Homo sapiens: one gene and its partner. The protein of the gene in region 1 purifies or fractionates together with the protein of each later gene. This does not show direct contact. Each region holds a gene or a part of one and is shown in the gene's direction. Other genes may lie near its edges.

The links.
Region 2: the proteins of BHMT (region 1) and MTMR6 purify together in Homo sapiens (affinity purification with mass spectrometry; 2 studies listed by BioGRID and IntAct, with this or other methods). This does not show direct contact.

Annotation. Positions count from the first base shown.
Region 1 is NC_000005.10:79,120,919-79,130,559, forward strand, and holds part of BHMT (betaine--homocysteine S-methyltransferase 1), read left to right. Parts: intron 1-299; coding exon 300-447; intron 448-5,127; coding exon 5,128-5,310; intron 5,311-6,836; coding exon 6,837-7,065; intron 7,066-9,641.
Region 2 is NC_000013.11:25,249,371-25,259,011, reverse strand, and holds part of MTMR6 (phosphatidylinositol-3,5-bisphosphate 3-phosphatase MTMR6), read left to right. Parts: intron 1-319; coding exon 320-452; intron 453-1,166; coding exon 1,167-1,276; intron 1,277-1,690; coding exon 1,691-1,816; intron 1,817-3,939; coding exon of another isoform or gene 3,940-3,990; exon of another isoform or gene 3,991-4,563; intron 4,564-4,577; coding exon 4,578-4,627; intron 4,628-5,047; coding exon 5,048-5,248; intron 5,249-7,027; coding exon 7,028-7,159; intron 7,160-7,236; coding exon 7,237-7,363; intron 7,364-9,519; coding exon 9,520-9,641. UniProt on the Homo sapiens protein: Lipid phosphatase that specifically dephosphorylates the D-3 position of phosphatidylinositol 3-phosphate and phosphatidylinositol 3,5-bisphosphate, generating phosphatidylinositol and phosphatidylinositol 5-phosphate.

The DNA of each region.
Region 1 (9,641 bases):
AAGGCGTGTGGATCACGAGGTCAGGAGTTTGAGAACAGCCTGGCCAACATGGTGAAACCCCGTCTCTACTAAAAATACAAAAATTAGCCAGGCGTGGTGGCGGGCGCCTGTAATCCCAGCTACTTGGGAGGCGGAGGCAGGAGAATTGCTTGAAACTGGGAGGCAAATGTTGCAGTGAGCCGAAATCGCACCACAGCACTCCAGCCTGGGTGAAAGAGCAAAACTCCGTCTCAAAAAAAAAAAAAAAATTGTTTTGGGAGAAACGAGATTAAAAGTACTCTAACCTTAACTGATTCCAGTATTTTGAACACGTTGAAGAAGCTGTGTGGGCAGTTGAAACCTTGATAGCATCCGGTAAACCTGTGGCAGCAACCATGTGCATTGGCCCAGAAGGAGATTTGCATGGCGTGCCCCCCGGCGAGTGTGCAGTGCGCCTGGTGAAAGCAGGTGATGATAGATTTCAATCAGTTTGTGATTAGTAAGTCTTAAAAGAACACACTAGTGCACATCTGTCTACAAATCAGTGTATACTACTTTCGTTAACATAAAAACCATTAATTTATTTTTGTAAGAATATTGATATTATTGAATCCCAGAGGAAAAGTTTTAAAAATGGCTGGGCGCGGTGGCTGACGCCTGTAATCCCAGCACTTTGGGAGGCAGAGACGGGTGGATCATGAGGTCAGGAGATCGAGACCATCCCGGCTAACACAGTGAAACCCCACCTCTACTAAAAAATACAAAAAATTAGCCGGGACTGGTGGCGGGCGCCTGTAGTCCCAGCTACTCGGGAGGCTGAGGCAGGAGAATGGCGTGAACCCGGGAGGCGGAGCTTGCAGTGAGCCGAGATTGCGCCACTGCACTCCAGCCTGGGCGAAAGAGCGAGATTCCGTCTCAATAAAAAAAAAAAAAAAAAGAATATCCTCAGTCTATAGTTTCCAATCATCGAGAATGTTAATAGGGTTCTGTGGTTAAATACATTTAGAAAATGCTGTGTTAAACCAAATTAAGCAGATATCTTGTTTTGTTTTGTTTTTTGAGACGGAGTCTTGTCACACTGCAGCCCAGGCTGGAGTGCAATGGCGCAATCTTGGCTCACTGCAATCTCCGCCTCCCAGGTTCAAGCGATTCTCCTGCCTCAGCCTCCCGAGTAGCTGGGATTATGGGCACCCGCCACCATGCCTGGCTAATTTTTTGTATTTTTTAGTAGAGACGGGGTTTCACTATTTGGTCAGGCTGGTCTCGAACTCCTGACCTCGTGATCCACCCGCCTCGGCCTCCCAAAGTGCTGGGATTACAGGTGTGAGCCATTGCGCCCGGCCTTAGGCAGATATCTTTACTGTGGAACTTATCAATATCTTTGATATGTTCACATATATTCCTAGTCTCCAAGAAGGTGATGTGGTGAACAGCTACTTCCTAACTTAATTGATCATGGAACATTATTTTCATGGACCAAACCTTGGAAAACCCTGTGCTAAATTATAAAATTGTTGATGTCAGGAACAATGTCCTTTATTTCTACTTCTCTATAATCTCTTGCAAGGAGGCTTACACCTAAAAGACATCCAATAAATAGCCAACATATTATTAATTTATTAATATAATGAAGTTAATTAAGCAAGGAAAGAGAAACTCTGGCAGCACAACATCCAAAAAAAAAGGGTAGCCAAAAATCTTCAACAGCTTATAGCTTAGTTGATATCAATGATCTTCCCACTTGGTTCCAGACTTGGATATTGTGGATATATATACTTGTGAGTATATGTATACACAATCTGATGAATATATATATATAAAATATATAAGTATATGTATATATACACACACATATTCTGGCTACATAGGTATACACACACATACAAGTATATTTACTTCTGGATACTTGCATATATCCACAATATTCAAATCTGGAGCCCAATGGGAAGGTCAGGGTAAGAGAGAGGAATATGGGAGAGACCTGGATATAGATGGTATTGAAAGCCTAGGACAGAAAAGGAAGTTTAAATGGGGAAGAAAAGATGAATCAGTGCAATCTTGGAACACTCCAGTTGAGAGTTTTAGCCTTGAGGAGGAGACAGCACAGAACATGAAGACATTTTTAAAAAGAATATTAAACAGGACATTTATTAAAATAATAAACCAGCAAAGTAGAAACAATACTTGGACAGTGTGTGGGAAGTTGCAGAAGCCAAGAGAAGGGGAGTGTCAATGAAGGAGGAAGTTGTCCACTAGGTTGCATACTGCTGAGAGCTTCAGTGAGATGAGAACAGAGAAGCAGCTGCTGGATTTGGCAAGGTTGAGGTCATTGGTAACCTTAACAAAAGCTGTTTCAGAGGAATGAAGGGGAGTGAGGCCTACTTGGAACAAGAATGAAGAGCAAACTGCAGACCCAGCCCAGCAACAGCAAAGACACCTGCCACTCACCACTGGATTCCATGGGTTGTGGCACCAGCTCTGCTGCTCCTGGGAGCTGAACACTGGGGTCACTCATCACTCATGCTGCATCCAGAAATAATCTCTCTTGCTCTTGTTCTTGGTATCTCTATATACAAAATACAAAATCCTAGGCCATGAGTCCATCCAAAAAAGTCCTTTTTGGTTGGTTGGTTGGTTGGTTGGTTGGTTCGTTGGTTGGTTGGTTGGTTTTGAGACAGAGTTTTTGCTCTGTTGCCCAGGCTGGAGTGCAATGGCACCGTCTTGGCTCACTGTAACCTCCACCTCCTGGGTTCAAGTGATTCTCCTGCCTCAGCCTCCCAAGTAGCTGGGATTACAGATGTGTACTACCACGTCCAGCTAATTTTTGTACTTTTAGTAGAGACGGGGTTTCACCATGTTGGCCAGGCTGGTCTTGAACTCCTGACCTCAGGTAATCCACCCGCCTCAGCCTCGCAAAGTGCTAAGATTACAGGCATGAGCTACTGCACCTGGCCCAAAAAAGTCCTTTTTGGGGGTGGAAACAATCTCAGAGTTCATCAACAGGTGAATGGATAAAACAAAATGTGGTGTATCCATACAATGAAATATCATGCAGCTATAAGAAGAAATGAAGTTCTCAAACATGCCATAACAGGGATGAACCTTGGAAACATCATGCTAAGTAAACTAAGCCACTCACAAAATGACAAATATCATATGATTTTGTTTATATGACATATCTAGAATGGGCAAATCCACAGAGACAGAAAGTAGATTTGAGGTTACCAGGGGCTAGCAGAAGGGGAAAATAAGGAGTTAGTTCTTAATGGGTAGAGTTTCTCTTTGGGGTATCGAAAAAATGTGGAAATAGTGATAATGGTTGCACAACATTGTGAATATAATTAATGCCACTTAAAAATGGCTAAAATGCGCCAGATGCAGGGGCTCATGCCTACAATCCCAGCACTTTGGGAGGCAAAGGTGTGAGGATCGCTTGAGGCCAGAAGTTCAAGACCAGCCTGGGCAACATAATGAGGCCTTGTCTCTACAAAAAAATAAAATTTTTTAAAAAGGTTAAAATGCCCAGTTTTACATGATATATATTTTACCACCATTTTTAAAATGCAAAAAAAAAAAAAGGAAAGAAAAGTCCTATTTGGGAATTCCTCCCACTTTGAGAGGAGAGAGTAAAAGAATTATAATGTCATAATGCCTTCTCAAATCTTCTGGAGGAGGAAACTTCCAAAATCATGTCTAGTGATTGCCATGGTAAATCATCTGTGGTCCAAATATAGTTAAGAACATAATGACTATAAAGAAAGTTTTTGAAGAAAATGAAATATCTAAAACATAGTTTGTTCTCACTAAATCAAACTTCACAGCACCAAATTTTACAAGAATACTGTAGGAAGACAATCCCATATAGTTGTGAGTCTGGGGAGGCTGAAATGTAAATTAAAAGCTTGTCAAAATGATTGATAGGCTAGTAACCACATTGAGTAGCTGAAGTCAAAGGATTTTTGAGATTCTTTTTCCCCAAACTATTAATCCTAGACACAAAATTCCTTCTAGCAAACACGTGTCTAAAAAACTTTTTTCTAAATTACATTCTGCTGCTGTGCCCAAGAAGGCTAATGAACTTATTAAGTTGGCCTGGTGAAAAGGAATATTTATTTACACCTCAAGCAAGCAGTATGGTAAACACAGGTGTAGTCTAGCAGCTGGGAGTGTTGAAAAATTATTGTGCTTGCAACATAATGTCCAACGTTGAAAGTTTGACTACTAAAATTTGAAGTTTAAAAAAATTCTAATAATTTTTTTTTGAAAAAAGATGGATAGGGCTGGGCATGGTGGCTCACACCTGTAATCCCAGCACTTTGTGAGGCTGAGCTGGGCGGATCACAAGGTCAGGAGATGGAGACCATCCTGGCCAACATGGTGAAACCCTGTCTCCACTAAAAACACAAAAATTAGCCTGTCGTGGTGGTGTGCGCCTATAGTCCCAGCTACTCAGGAGGCTGAGGCAGGAGAATCACTTGAACCCAGGAAGCAGAGGCTGTGGTGAGCTGAGATCGTGCCACTGCACTCCAGCCTGGGCAACAGAGCAAGAGTCTGTGTCTCAGAAAAAAAAAAAAAAAAAAAGAGATGGACAGCCAAATGTGCACAAATTACACTTCAATTATACCAGACTCTTCAAAGCACTTTCACAGAAAGCACTTCCTGCCTGCTAGTAATCATTCTCACTCAAAGGTAAGAGGTTTGTGGGGAATGAGGACCTAATGCTATGCTTCCAGTTCATCATTCCAATTAAAAGCTTCCTGCTGGGTGTGGTGGCTCATGCCTGTAATCCCAGCAGTCTGGGAAGCTGTTGGATCACTTGAGCTCAGGAGTTCGAGACCAGCCTGGGCAACATGGCGAAACCCCATATCTATAAAAAAACAAACAAACAAACAAAAATTAGCCAGACGTGGTGGCACACACTTGTAGTCACAGCAACTTGGGAGGCTGAGGTGGGAGGATTGCTTGATCACTTGAGGTGGAGACTGCAGTGAGCTGAGATCACGCTACTGCACTCCAGCCTGGGCAACAGAGTGAGATTGTGTCTCAAAAAATGAAAAAAGAACTTCCTGATTCCTGATGAAGAGAGGAGAGCTGGCCCTGCTGGTTTCTGGTGCATCCCTAAGTCTATCATGTTCTTCCCACTCACAGGAGCATCCATCATTGGTGTGAACTGCCACTTTGACCCCACCATTAGTTTAAAAACAGTGAAGCTCATGAAGGAGGGCTTGGAGGCTGCCCGACTGAAAGCTCACCTGATGAGCCAGCCCTTGGCTTACCACACTCCTGACTGCAACAAGCAGGGATTCATCGATCTCCCAGAATTCCCATTTGGTAAGACCAACATTTGATGAATCATCTCAATATCTTCATTTGATATGCATATAAACTCAAGTAAATCTATACCCAGAGATCTTTTGTCATAGTGAAGAGATGGCTTGGTGTCTCCTCATGTCTTGTCCCTGGTTTCTGTCCCTGCAGCCAAAAGCCCCTTCGTATTAGAGAAGAGCAGAAGGAAAGGATGGTCCCAGCTAGCAAAAAAGATCTCTGAATTTAAATATAAAATCTAAGGTGAATCAGCATCTAAACAGACAACTAGTGAGTCATACTTTGGGGTTGGTGAGGATGCCCTTCATGGGAGAATCAACAGATATTTAGTTCTAGTTCCAGCTCTGTTGCTAAGTCCTGTCACCTTAGGAAAATCTTTAAATTCCTCTAGCTCTCAAATTCTTTATTGGGAAAATAAGATCAGACCAGTTATCTCTAAGGTCCTTTTCTCCAATTTTTAATATGGCTCAGCTACTCCAGAGTTTTGGGATTGCAGGCAAGATACCATCATCGAGTGACTGTATAACAAGTTTTAATGAAGAGACCAAGCAGATGAAGTGAGGGGATACTTGCAGTCCAGGCAGAAGGAAAAACTTTCCCAGCATGATTGGGAAGAGCGGGTGGGTTGATCTCACAAATTAAGCCAGAGTGGTCAGCAGGGGCAGAGCATGCCCAGCCTCCTATTTCCTTCTAAGGTCTTTACACCCTATCCTATATTTTATAGGGACCCTTAGACAAGTAAGATATTATAAAATACAATCACTCTGGAGGAGCCACAGAGGAAGAAAGGCAAGGCATTTGTGTTACTTACTGCTGTATAACACATTAAATTAATGCAAAATGTAGTGGCTTGAAAAACCACTTCTTATCTCACAGTTTCTCCAGGTCAAGAATTCAGGGATAGCATAACTAGGTGGTTTTGGTTCAGGGTCTCCTAAGAGGTTGGAGTCCGGATATTTGCCAGGGCTATTATCACCTGAAGGCCTGTTGGGAGCTGGGGGATCTACTTCCTAGCTCACTTAATTGGTTTTTGGGAGTTAGTGTCAGTTTCTTGCTGTCTGTTGACTGGGGGCCTCAGTTCCTCAGCTCATGGGCCTTTTCACTGTGATGCTAGAAAACATGCTTGAAACATGTGATGCTTGCAACATGGCAGCTGGCTTTCCCCAGGGTGAGTGCTCCAAGAAAGTGCAAGGCAGAAACCATGATGTTTTGTATAGCCTAGACTCTGAAGTCACATGCCAGTTCTGCCATATTCTATGGATCTCACAGACCAGCCCTGTTATAATGCAAGAGGGGACTGCACAAGAAGAAAAACATCAAAGGGCAGGGGTCATTTGGAACCTCCTGAAGGCTGGATACCACAGCATGTAAAAGTGAACATACAACACAAAGTAGCAAAGTTTTTTCTTAAATGTAAAAATTGAATATTGAAAACAATTCATTTATTGAAAATTACATACTTGTAGCTACTTATCTTGAATTTTTATGAAAAGAATGTATAATGCCTAATGGCATAATGCCACTTATTACAGGACTGGAACCCAGAGTTGCCACCAGATGGGATATTCAAAAATACGCCAGAGAGGCCTACAACCTGGGGGTCAGGTACATTGGCGGGTGCTGTGGATTTGAGCCCTACCACATCAGGGCAATTGCAGAGGAGCTGGCCCCAGAAAGGGGCTTTTTGCCACCAGCTTCAGAAAAACATGGCAGCTGGGGAAGTGGTTTGGACATGCACACCAAACCCTGGGTTAGAGCAAGGTAAGCATCTTTTTACTAACCCAAACTAATTTAGATTATGAATATGTTCAAGTGAGGCCATTTAGAAGACTGCAGCAAATTTGTTGTGTGATGATGAAGAATCAGTCATCCCCAAATTCTCTCCCAGAGATGTTTACAAAGCATCCTTATTAGGTGATTTCTGGAGATTGTTTTAAGAATATAGAACGTATTTGACCTGATTTTGGATTTTGAAAAGAAAAAGAAAAATTTTTTTAAAAATTGTTTTTAAATATAGGCTGGGTGCGGTGGCTCGCGCCTGTAATCCCAGCACTTTGGGAGGCCAAGGTAGGAGGATTACTTGATCTCGGGAGTTTGAGACCAGCATGGGCAAGATGGCAAAACTCCATCTCTACTAAAAATACAAAAAAAAAAAAAATTAGCTGGGCATAGTGGTGCATGCCTGTAATCACAGCTACTTGGGAGGCTGAGGCACAAGAATTGCTTGAACCCGGGAGGCAGAGGTTGCAGTGAGCCAAGATCACGCCACTGCACTCCAGTTTGGGCAACAGAGTGAGACCCTGTTTTAAAAAAAAAAAAAAAAAAGAATATAGCATGTAAATAAACGTAAGTGGCAATGAAATGTGATTTTGTGCTCTAGTAAAGCACCATTAGTGTGGTGCACAATACTCTTAAATTGCATTGATTTTTAAGAGTTAAGGACCACTTAAGTATAGCTAATACTGATTGTTCTATATCAAGCATGATTTTCAGAGCTGGGAATACGGTGGCAAATAAGACAGGCAAGGTCTTTGCCCTCAGAGTTTACATTCCAATGGGGAAGATGAATAATACACTAGTAAAAAAAAATGTATGTCAGGCACTGGGAAGGGCAGTAGGAATATAGAAATGAGAAGCCGTGGATTAGAGACTCACAGTCTACTGGGTAAAAGAATACGAAAGCCAATGTATTATACTGTGGTAGCTGCTTTAGTAGATGTATGGATAGAAAAGTAACAAGAGAAGAGAATGACTATCTCTGCCTAACAGAAAGATATTTTAAAAGAAGGGTTTTGGGGCTGGATTTTGAAGGCTCAATAGGCTCCTACCATATAGAGAACTAGGAAGCGGGTGGAGGACAGGTGCTCCAAGGAGAGGTAGCAGTTCCACTCTGTTCAGCAGCTATTAACAGAGCACAGCTATCTGTCAGATGCTGTTGTGGATGCTGAGGTAGCAAGCTAAACAAGGAGCTAGCAATCTAGCAGGCAGAACGATAAGCAGGTAATGTCCAATGAGTATAGTAAGTCCAAGGATGAAGATGTGCATAGGTGTGCAGGGTCTGAGCTAATGTCCCAAGGGGCAAAAGGCAGAGAGAGGGTGAATGAAGGATTTCTAAGAAAGCTGATGCCTGAGTTGAATTCTGCGAGAGGAATTACATTGCTAGAGGAACAGCCCTCAGGAAAGCACTGAGAAGTGGAAAGAGAATGACACATTGAGAAACTGGAAGTTTGAGAATAGCAGAGACAGAATTTGGTGAAAGACACCTCCCAGGAGGAGGAGGCAGCCTCTTTATTCATGCTCAGGAGTTATGTAGGACCCCATCCCAAAGGCAAAGAGGAGCCTGGGTGGTCTCAGGTAGCCCAGGGCAAGGTTAGATTAGCAAGTTAGCAAGTTGTAATCGCCATGTGAGGAAGACTTGCTAGGAGGGACAGCAGACAGGTTGAGGCCTGAGCTAGAAGGAAGCAAAGGAAATAGAAGGGCAGAAGTGGAGCCTGCAGAGTGAGAGGTGCAGAAGTTATCCAGGGTTTGGGGAAGAATAACCAAGGTGAACTCAGCTGGCTCATGAGGATGTGAGGAAGGACAGGTAGTGTAAGTGGAATAGACAGTACTCCTATCCCAAATTTTCCCTGTACATATATTAAAAGAAGAAATTCAAGGTGGGCATAGTGACTCACACCTGTAATCCCAGCACTTTGGGAAGCTGAGGCAGGCGAATCACTTGAGCTCAGGAGTTTGAGACCAGCCTGGGCAACATGGCGAAACCCTGTCTCTACAAAAAGTACAAAAATTAGCTGTACTAATTTTGTACCTATGTGGTGGCATAGGCCTATAATCCCAGCTACTCAAAAGGCTGAGGCAGAAGAATCACTTGAACCTGGGAGGCGGGGGTTGCAGTGAGCCAAGATCGTACCACTGCACTCCAGACAGGGTGACAGAGTAAGACCCTGTCTCAAAAAAGAAATTCAAAGTAACTTTAGACTTACAGATTGAGGGGAGGGGGTGGAATTTTTAGTCCAGATTAATGTGTGTTTTAATGGATGCACTCTGAGAATCCAAAGATGGCTCCCTCAATGTGCACTCATAACAGAACAAGAAATCACATCAGTTTTTACATCAAAGGGCACCTTCTATGACAAAAACCATTGTTAATGAGGCAGATGCCTCTGGAGGAAACACTGTAAAAAGCCTTCCAGCAGAATGGACCGCTTCCCAGTCCCTCAACTGCTTCTGATGTTTCTTCTCATCTACAAAAGTAAAATACAGTGTACAGTAACCTTTTAATCAAAACACAGCATCATGGATGGAGACAAAGCCTGTTGCTGATGGTTGTTGCTGTT
Region 2 (9,641 bases), on another chromosome or scaffold:
GAGACATTTCTTTCTTTTTAATTTTAAAATATTACAAACATATGGAAACTGCCTAAAATATAAATGAATTGGTTTCATGAACTTATGGGAACTTTGACCTTTCCATTATATAGCAATCGTATTACTTTATTATCTCCTTCATTACTATTTAATAATGTGGCATTTTTACTTACTAAAAGATGAATGGTAGCTTATTCAGTTTTGATGAGTTCCTTTAAACTGCCTCCTAGCTAAAATACTGCTTATTTAATATTTTCATGACATTTTGGTAAATTAAAAAAGTAATTTGTCTCTAAATTTCTAAAACTTTTAATTTTAGCTGAATGCAATGGCCAACAGAGCAGCTGGAAAAGGTTATGAAAATGAAGACAACTATTCCAATATTAGATTTCAGTTTGTTGGAATTGAAAATATTCATGTCATGAGGTCCAGCCTTCAGAAATTATTGGAAGGTATATTATTGCTTACTTTTTTAGACACCCTTGTCCAAAAGAAATCTAATGCTAGTCACATGTAATTTAGAATTTTCCAGTGGTCACATTTTAAAAAGTAAAAAGAAACAAGTGAAATTAATTTTAATAATATCCTTACTTAATATATTATAAACATTATTTTAACATGTAGTCAATATAAAAAAAATCAGTAATGAGATATTTTTCTTTTCATCAACTCTTAGAAATCAGGCATGTATTTTACACTTACTACACATCTGAGTTTGGACAAGCCATATTTCAAATGTTTAGTAGCCGTATTTGGTTAGTGGCTGCTGTATTAGACAGTACAATTCTAATGGTTTTGCAAAAAAAATGTTATTAGATAGATATTCTTGAGTAGTCAGTACAATAAATACTAATTTGTAGTAATGTTCATTTAAATATTCCAGTCATAGTATAGAATTTAAAAAATTAAAATATAAGATTATTTTTAGTTAGATGCTTGTGCTACAATGTTTTTTAAGAGATTGGAGCATTTTTGTAAGCACGGGAATAATAGAAAAATATATCCAAGAATCAGTTATTGAGCTTTTAATAGCATCTTTTCATTTATAGAGTCTTGCCTGTTTATTTTGTCTTCTTTCTTCATTCACTTATCTAGAGAGATCTTGAAAAAAGAAATGCAGAAACTCTAGCCATATTCTAATTGAAATATTTTTATACCTCTTTCAGTCAATGGCACTAAAGGGCTTTCTGTCAATGATTTCTACTCCGGTTTGGAGAGCTCGGGATGGCTTCGCCATATCAAAGCTGTTATGGATGCTGCAATCTTCTTGGCCAAAGTAATACTTTATCTTTCATATTTGGTCTTGGGGTCTATAATGATTGGGAAGGAGTAGATGTATTCTGTTGGGGGCTGGTATCTATTCATCAGATAACTTTTATTATTTTTTACCTCTTTAATGAGCTTCACTTTATTTTCAGCCTTAAAAATATCATGTAGCACTTAATGTAGAAACTTAAAAAGATGCTCCTAAATACTTTGAAGTGGCATTTTTTCTTTGTTTTTTTTTTGTTTGTTTGCTTGTGTTTTTGTTGTTACCATATTTTGTTGTGTATTTTGGAAATTATGCTGTGACATTATCATTGCAGGCATAGCACTTCCTTGTAACACAATACCTGCTAGTATGATTTTCAAGTAGAATTTATTGGTTTACCTTAAAGTACGCTAGAATGTATGTGATCTTTCTTTTCAGGCAATAACAGTTGAAAATGCAAGTGTGTTGGTGCATTGTTCCGATGGTTGGGATAGGACTTCCCAGGTTTGTTCCCTGGGTTCTCTTTTATTGGATTCCTACTACAGGACAATCAAAGGATTCATGGTAAGGATTTATTTGGTTAGACCAATGGTTCTTAAGTAGGAGTAATTTTATGTTCCTCCAGAGGACATTTGGCAATGTTGGAGACAGTTTTGCACTAAAGGAAATGATGAGACTGGCATCCGTGGGAGTGGCCAGGGATATTGCTAACTAAACATTTTATAATGCACAAAATTTTTGCTGGGGGGTCAGCCTCACAGCAAAGACTGATCTGGCCTGTAATGTCAGTACTGTCGAGGTTGAAAAACCTTGAATTAGACTTATTTCCATTTGTGCTAACACTGACAATAAGCTTTAGATTTAAATAATTTTTTTTCCTAAAATGTTGCAATGGAAATATTCAGTATTTTCTCCCTCATTTTTATCTAACAAATGTAAATAATGTAATAAAACAATGCACAAATAAGAGTACTTAAAATTAAATTCTGAAGGAAACCTTCTATTTAAAACACCTGCATTAGTAAGTGTAATAACATATTAGGCATGTTTTATATCTGAAGATAAAATTTCTAGTTGAATAGATTTTCTCCTTTGTGAAGATAAAGACCTAGTTCCTTTTTTTTGTTTCTTTGCTTTTAAAGGTATGATCAGATTTTTATTTGCTTGCTTTTAAACGTGTGAGCAGATTAACTTATGTTTTCAAAATTTACATCTTAACTCATGGTAAATTAAATGAAGAGATGTTAGAAAATTTTCATTAGTCTTGAATTATTAAATACAGTGCCATCTTAAAGCAAAGGAAGATTTAAAATCACCAGTCCCTTTTCAGCACCGCTATTTTTTGCTGCTAACATACCGACTCTGGGACAGGCCAAGCGGGAGTGCTGCTAATAAGAAAATAATGCTCAGCTTACCTTGAGAGTGTACGATAAGGAATATTTTCTTTGCCATGTTTGGCTTTAATTATTTGTTAGACATCCAAATGAAATCATGTAATAAATGGGGATGATGTGAGAGCTTCCCAGGCAATAGGAACAGTGTAAATCAAAGCATAACCTCTTTGGGTGACTGCAGGTAATGTGTGATGGATGGAGTTCAGAGTGAGTATTAGAATAGGGGGCTTGGAGGCAGAGGAATAGAGTGGGGTCAGGGCCTGAGAAAGAGAAGGCTGGAATGGGGCTTTCCCCTCTTTGGATAATGGGAGCTATTAAAGAGTTTTAAACAAGCAAACAGTAACTTGATTAGATGTGCTTTTTAAAAAGGTGGCTTGGTATCTTGAAGGCCAAAGGGAGTGGGAATGGAGGCTAGGAGGCGAGTGTAGACACTATTATGATAACTTATGAGACAAAAGTTTTTAATTTTACCAAACTAAAATAGTAACACACAAGTGAAGGGGGAGGTGATGGGTTCCAGGGATGTTTAGAGAGTAGAGTCAGTGGCTGGGCGCAGTGGCTCACGCCTGTAATCCCAGCACTTTGGGAGGCCAAGGCGGGTGGATCATGAGGTCAGGAATTCGAGACCAGCCTGGCCAATATGGTGAAACCCTGTCTCTGCTAAAAATACAAAAATTAGCCGGGCATGGTGATGTGTACCTATAATCCCAGCTACTCAGGAGGCTGAGGCAGAAGAATTACTTGAACCCAGGAGGCGGAGGTTGCAGTGAGCCAAGATTGCGCCACTGCACTCCAGCCTGGGCAACAGAGTGAGACCCTGTCTCAAAAAAAAAAGAAAGTAGAGTCAGGAAGAATTGATCATGGATTGGATGTGGGATAGAAGAGAGGAGTCTTCCTCTGGGATGATTTCCAAGTTTCTGAATTAGGTGCCAGGATGGATGGTGCTGCTCTCTGGCTCTTCACTGAGATAAGCCAAAGAATACATTTAGTGAGAAAGATATTGAGTTATGCTTTAAACATGGTTTTGTAGAAGAATGGCAGAGAGACCAGAATAAAATCTGTGGCTCCAGCCACAAGGTCACACAAAGTGGTGAAGCTGGGATTGGAGCCTGTGCCTGAGCTCCAGCGACTACATCCTCAGCCACATCAGTGTATAGCCTTCTGCGGAAAGCAGAGGCTTGAGACAAAATCAGAGAAGCTAAAACCAGCAGTTTTGACACTATGAAAATAATGTGCTTGGTGACTGTATAGTTAAGTGATAAAGTGTACTAAATACTACAAATATGTGTTTAGATTAGACTGAAAAAGTTAGAAATCTGTTTTTACAGTGGAGTGGGTAAGTAGAGAAGCTGTGGCAAGGAAAACATAAAGTCAGTCCATTCAAGAGGATAGATGTTAACACTTGGATCTGAACATGAACTCAAGTAAGATGATTTGATTAAAATAATTGGTCTTTTTATCATTAGTTTTTTTTTCTTAAAAAAAGTAGTATATAAATAATATAAAAAATGTACAAGTAAGCCAAAAGTTTTAAAATATCCACCTCAGTCTACCACCTAGAGTTATCCTTTGTTAGCAGTTTTGGTTTACATTTTTCTAGCCTTTTTCCTATGATATATCATCTTCATACATACAAAAACTTAAATGTAATACTGCTTTATAACATGTACTTTTCACTTAAAATGTAATAAATTCAACGGAAATAATTTAAGTCACGAAACTACTCTATTTCTTTTTATGCATTTTTATTCTTCTTTAACCCCACCTCGAATCAAGGTTTTGGCATTCTTTTGCCTGTGGTTTTTTGTGCTGTTTTGTTTATAAGTTAAAAGTGTACAGTAAATACTGTTTTTAAACTAATAAGATTTAATCCAGCCTAAACAAAATAATTGAAAGTAGTCAGAAAGTGAATTTTACTTTTTCTCATTAAGGTTTTAATAGAAAAGGATTGGATCTCTTTTGGACATAAATTTTCAGAGAGGTGAGTCACAGTTACACAGTCATATATTTTATAAAATTAGTAAACCAAGTTTAGAATGCCAAAATGTTTCTGTTCCTTATGAACTCACATGCGTGATGGGAGGTAAGAGTGTCATGGTTTTTACTGTATTTTACGTAAAGACATTTAATTTTTTTCTGTAATTTCTTTCAATTCTAGTACGCTTGTTAATTTTCATGACTATTTATTACCTTCCTTTTGGGCTGCATTTTATTTAGAGATGGTAACAGATCCTTTAAAGCTGTGGTTTAAAAACTCATAAATGGTTTCAATAAAAATTCTAGTTTTGCATGCTAATGTAACAGTGCTTTAGGAATATTTTTGTATGTTTAAGATTAACAATACCTGAACAATGGACCTTTCAGAGGTGTTTTTAAAAGCTTATACTTTCTGTGGGGTTAGGTGTGGCCAGTTGGATGGTGACCCAAAGGAAGTCTCACCAGTGTTTACTCAGTTCTTGGAATGTGTGTGGCATTTGACCGAACAGTTTCCACAAGCCTTTGAATTCAGTGAAGCATTTCTTCTTCAGATCCATGAGCATATTCATTCATGCCAGTTTGGAAACTTCCTTGGAAATTGTCAGAAGGAAAGAGAAGAGCTCAAGTAAGATGATTCAATTAAAAGAGTCTCCTTTTCCCCCTACTTAGCCGAGGTCTAACAAAAATCATGTTTGAAACTTAATAAAATATCTTGACAATTTGAAAGTTTATTGTAAAGATTTTATTTTTTGTATTTCTAAAGCTGAGTACCCTTCTAATATTCCCCCACCTTTCAGCTAATAGTAAAAGCACATTATAAAATGTGTTTTGAAGTGTAGCATACATACAGAAAAGTACATAGAGCGTTAAGTGTGAAGCTCAGTAAATCTTACCAAACTCACACACCTATGTAACCAGCACCCAGAATATGAAATGTTGTCAACACCCTGGAAAGTCTCCTCATGCTTCTTTTCGGTCTGCATTTATATATTTTAGAACAGAGAAATCCTTATGCTGTTTAATTTCCCAGAATGTATCAGTCGCTAGTTTTAAAGTGTAAAATATTTTAAACTGTTGGTTTGTTTTAAGATAGGATGGAGCCTTATAGCTCTCCCCACATTTCTAAACAGACAGTTCTTTGGGGAAAATAAATCTAGCTATGTTGGCTGCAGCGTGTCCGTCCTTGAGTAGGGTCTCAGAAAAGCCCTGAGACACTACTTGACCCTAGTTCATGTTATTTCCTGACCAGTCTTCGGGGATAGGGGTTTTTGCCTAAATTTTGCTGTAAGGAAGATCTCTGGAGTAGGTCTTAGAGGTCCTATGTATATTGTTTTAGGTTGGGCTTCTGAGTTTGGATTTCTTTATTGCCTCTTACAGTAGGCAATAAAGAGCACTTAACAGACTTTTGAACATCCAAGGGACATATTAAGGAAGCTAAATCTGGTAGTATTTGAAGATAGCCACATGCTCACACTCCCAACAGAGTAAACAGCAGAACTGAGAGCATGTGGAAAATTCTAAAAATGCGTAAAGGGAATAAAAAGTGAATAGAGAATGGTGGAGATGAACAATCAAAGAACATTGAGGCTTTAGCTCTATGTTACAGTGATTCAAAATAGTTTATTATAATTTGGAGCACAGAGGTAACTCTTTTCCTGGAGTACAGAGCTATTTTAGGAAAAACTATTCTTAATTAGTGCCAAACATTCTCAAAAATGGAAAGATGGAAGTAAAAGTAGATATTTCCTAGTAGTTTTTCTCCAAGACACACCTATGGGTCATCTTAGGAGTTATGGAAAAATCAGGAGATTTTCCACTTTCCCCCTGGATACCTACATTATGTTTACTTGGTAAATGTCCAGTCTAAAACCATTCTTACCTTTGCCCAGCTACTCTTAGATTTGCAAAATAATTGGCTTTTAAAATTCTTGCATAACATCCTGATTTTGCCTGTTCCCTTTTTGTACCCACTCACACTTACGTGTGCTCCTGCCCTATGATACTCGCCACTACGGCCCAGACGTGGGGTTAAGAGAAGGCCAGACAGAAAGATGCATTAGTGTCTTGTTCTATGTGTATGTTTGTGGTGATTTGAAGTAGGTGGAACAGAGACCAAGTTTTTGAAATTGTGTGAGTTGAGAGGAATCCCTTAAAATATATGGTTGTGAGAGAAAATGTTATACCTGTGTTGTGTTCAAGAAACATGACTTTATTACCTAATTATGAATGAAAAAGGAGAATAGAGATAATACAGAATTCTGAGACAAGGTTAGACTGTGAATACAAGAAAAAACTAAAATTTAAATCTGCTTCGGAAGCCATCGCCTGATTTATAAAAATGAATATTACCATTACTACTTTGCATCTATAGGAAAGATCTCTGTGTTTTTCTCATTATATTAAGGTTGAAGGAGAAGACTTATTCCCTGTGGCCATTTCTTTTGGAAGACCAAAAGAAGTACTTAAATCCTCTCTACAGTTCCGAATCTCACAGATTTACAGTTTTGGAGCCAAATACAGTATCTTTCAATTTTAAGTAAGTTGACATCATTGGAGTATTTATACTTGAATTTTCTCAAACACAATTTATTGAAACTTTTTTTTGTCATAAAGGTTTTGGAGGAACATGTACCATCAATTTGATCGAACACTGCATCCTAGGCAGTCTGTATTTAATATAATTATGAATATGAATGAGCAAAATAAACAATTAGAGAAAGATATTAAAGACCTAGAATCTGTAAGTATTCTGAAGTATCTAATATATTTGGAATGTGAAATTAGTTTACGATTAGACTAATATTTGTATTGTTGGTGTAAATCAGCACATAAACTTCTGAAGTAAGCAGTTTCTTCAAAATCAGGTCATCCCTACTTTGATTGAATACGTTAGTTCGAATCACTTTCTTTGTATTTTAAAATACATTAAAATACCGGAAGTATATAGCATAACGTATAGATAAACATAATAACTATCTGTGTACCCACCAGCTAGCTTTTGTGGGATTTTAACATTTACTATATATGCCTCAGATCTTTCTTGTTCTTGTTTTAAGAAATAAAACATAGGCCGGGCGCAGTGGCTCACGCCTGTAATCCCAGCACTTTGGGAGGCCGAGGCGGGTGGATCACCAGGTCAGGAGAGTTTGAGACCAGCCTGGTCAGCACAGTGAAACCCCATCTCTACTAAAAAAATAACAAAAAAGTAGCCGGGCATGGTGGCGCATGCCTGTAATCCCAGCTACTTGGGAGGCTGAAGCAGGAGAATTGCTTGAACCTGGGAGGCGGAGGTTGCAGTGAGCCAAGATCATGCCTCTGCACTCCAGCCTGGGTGACAGAGCAAGACTCCATCTCAAAACAAAAACAAACAAAAAAAAAAGAAATAAAACATAGATCTATTTGAAGACCCTCTATACTCTTACCCAGTCTTCACCCATGTATCACAATTTATAATACTGTTTTTCTTGACTTAAAATATTTTTACTGTGTATTGAAAAAATACCAAAGACTATCTATAATGTTTGTATGAGTTGTAAAGGGAAACAGACAATGTATAGGCCAATATACCCTTCACTCTGCTTAAGAAACTGATGTTTTAAAACTATATAAAAGTTACCATACTGTTTATGTGCTTCATTTTGCTCAACAGTGTTTTGACATTTATCCATGTTGATACATGTAGCTTTTATTCATCTTTTTATTAGTAACTACTATATAACTTTATATTATATGAATATATCACAGTCTATCCATTCAGCTATGGATGAATATTTAAATTGTTTTCAGTTTTGGATTTCCATGATTACAAATGAAGTTAAATGACTTTCCATATTTGTTGGCCATTTGGTTTTCCTTTTCTGTGAATGGACTGTTCAAACCTTTGCTCATTTTTCTGTTGGCATATTTGCCTTTTTCTTAGTGATTTGTAAGAGTTGTTTATATGCCAGGCACTAATTCTTTGTTAGTTATATATATTACAAATGGTTTTGTCCAGCCTATTGTCTTTTCCACTTTATTTATGGTATGCTATATATAGATGTTTTGAATTTTCATGTCAAATTGCTCAATGTTTTATGCTTTCTGTGTGTGTCTTGTTTAACAAATCCCTCTCTACCCTAAGACTTTCCTATAATCTTTTTTCTGCCATCCTATATAAGCAAAAAGGATCAGTAAGTATATATATATTTTTTAAATCCTAGACAGTTATAACAGTAAGACTGTCTCATCTACCTCTCAGGCAGGAGTCTCCCTTAGTCATCTTTTAGATAAAGAGGTAATGACTGCTTGAGTAAATTGTAGAAGGATATGGTCAAGAGAGGCAAGTCCAGGATAATAGGTAATACAAGATTATCGGGACAGTCCAAGAATTTGGAGAGCATGATACTCTGCCACAGGACACTTTAAAAATCTTCTGTTAAAAAAGTAAAGTTCTGTTGTGTTTAAAGTCTGTTATTTTTACCTAACAAACCACTGTAGGAAAACCATGTAAGAAAAACTCTATATAGTCAGTGAGCCCTTTAGCTACACAAGTTTGTTTGTTGTGTTTTCAGGGTGAATGTTTCATACACATTTCTTTTATTATAAATGTTTACCTGTTATGCTTTCTAGGTAATATATGTCCATTTTAAGTGTGGAAGCCTAGTGATCGCCTGCAGTCAAGTCTTGCTGGATTGTTTGTTTAATAAATATAAAAACTAACAATTTTCCACAGCAAAAAATTGTACACAATTAGGATTTTCAACCATGTCATATGCATTAAATGTTTCTACTTTTTTGAGATTTAGTTTTGCATTATACATACAGAGAACATATTTTGCAAAAGCATGTTTTCTTTTTTCATGTAACATATTGTGGCTTATGCAATTAGTAATTTTTTCAAATTTGTGTTTGTTCTAGAAAATTAAACAACGCAAAAATAAGCAAACAGATGGCATCCTCACCAAGGAATTGTTACATTCAGTTCATCCTGAATCACCTAACCTCAAAACTTCCCTGTGTTTTAAAGAGCAGACTCTGCT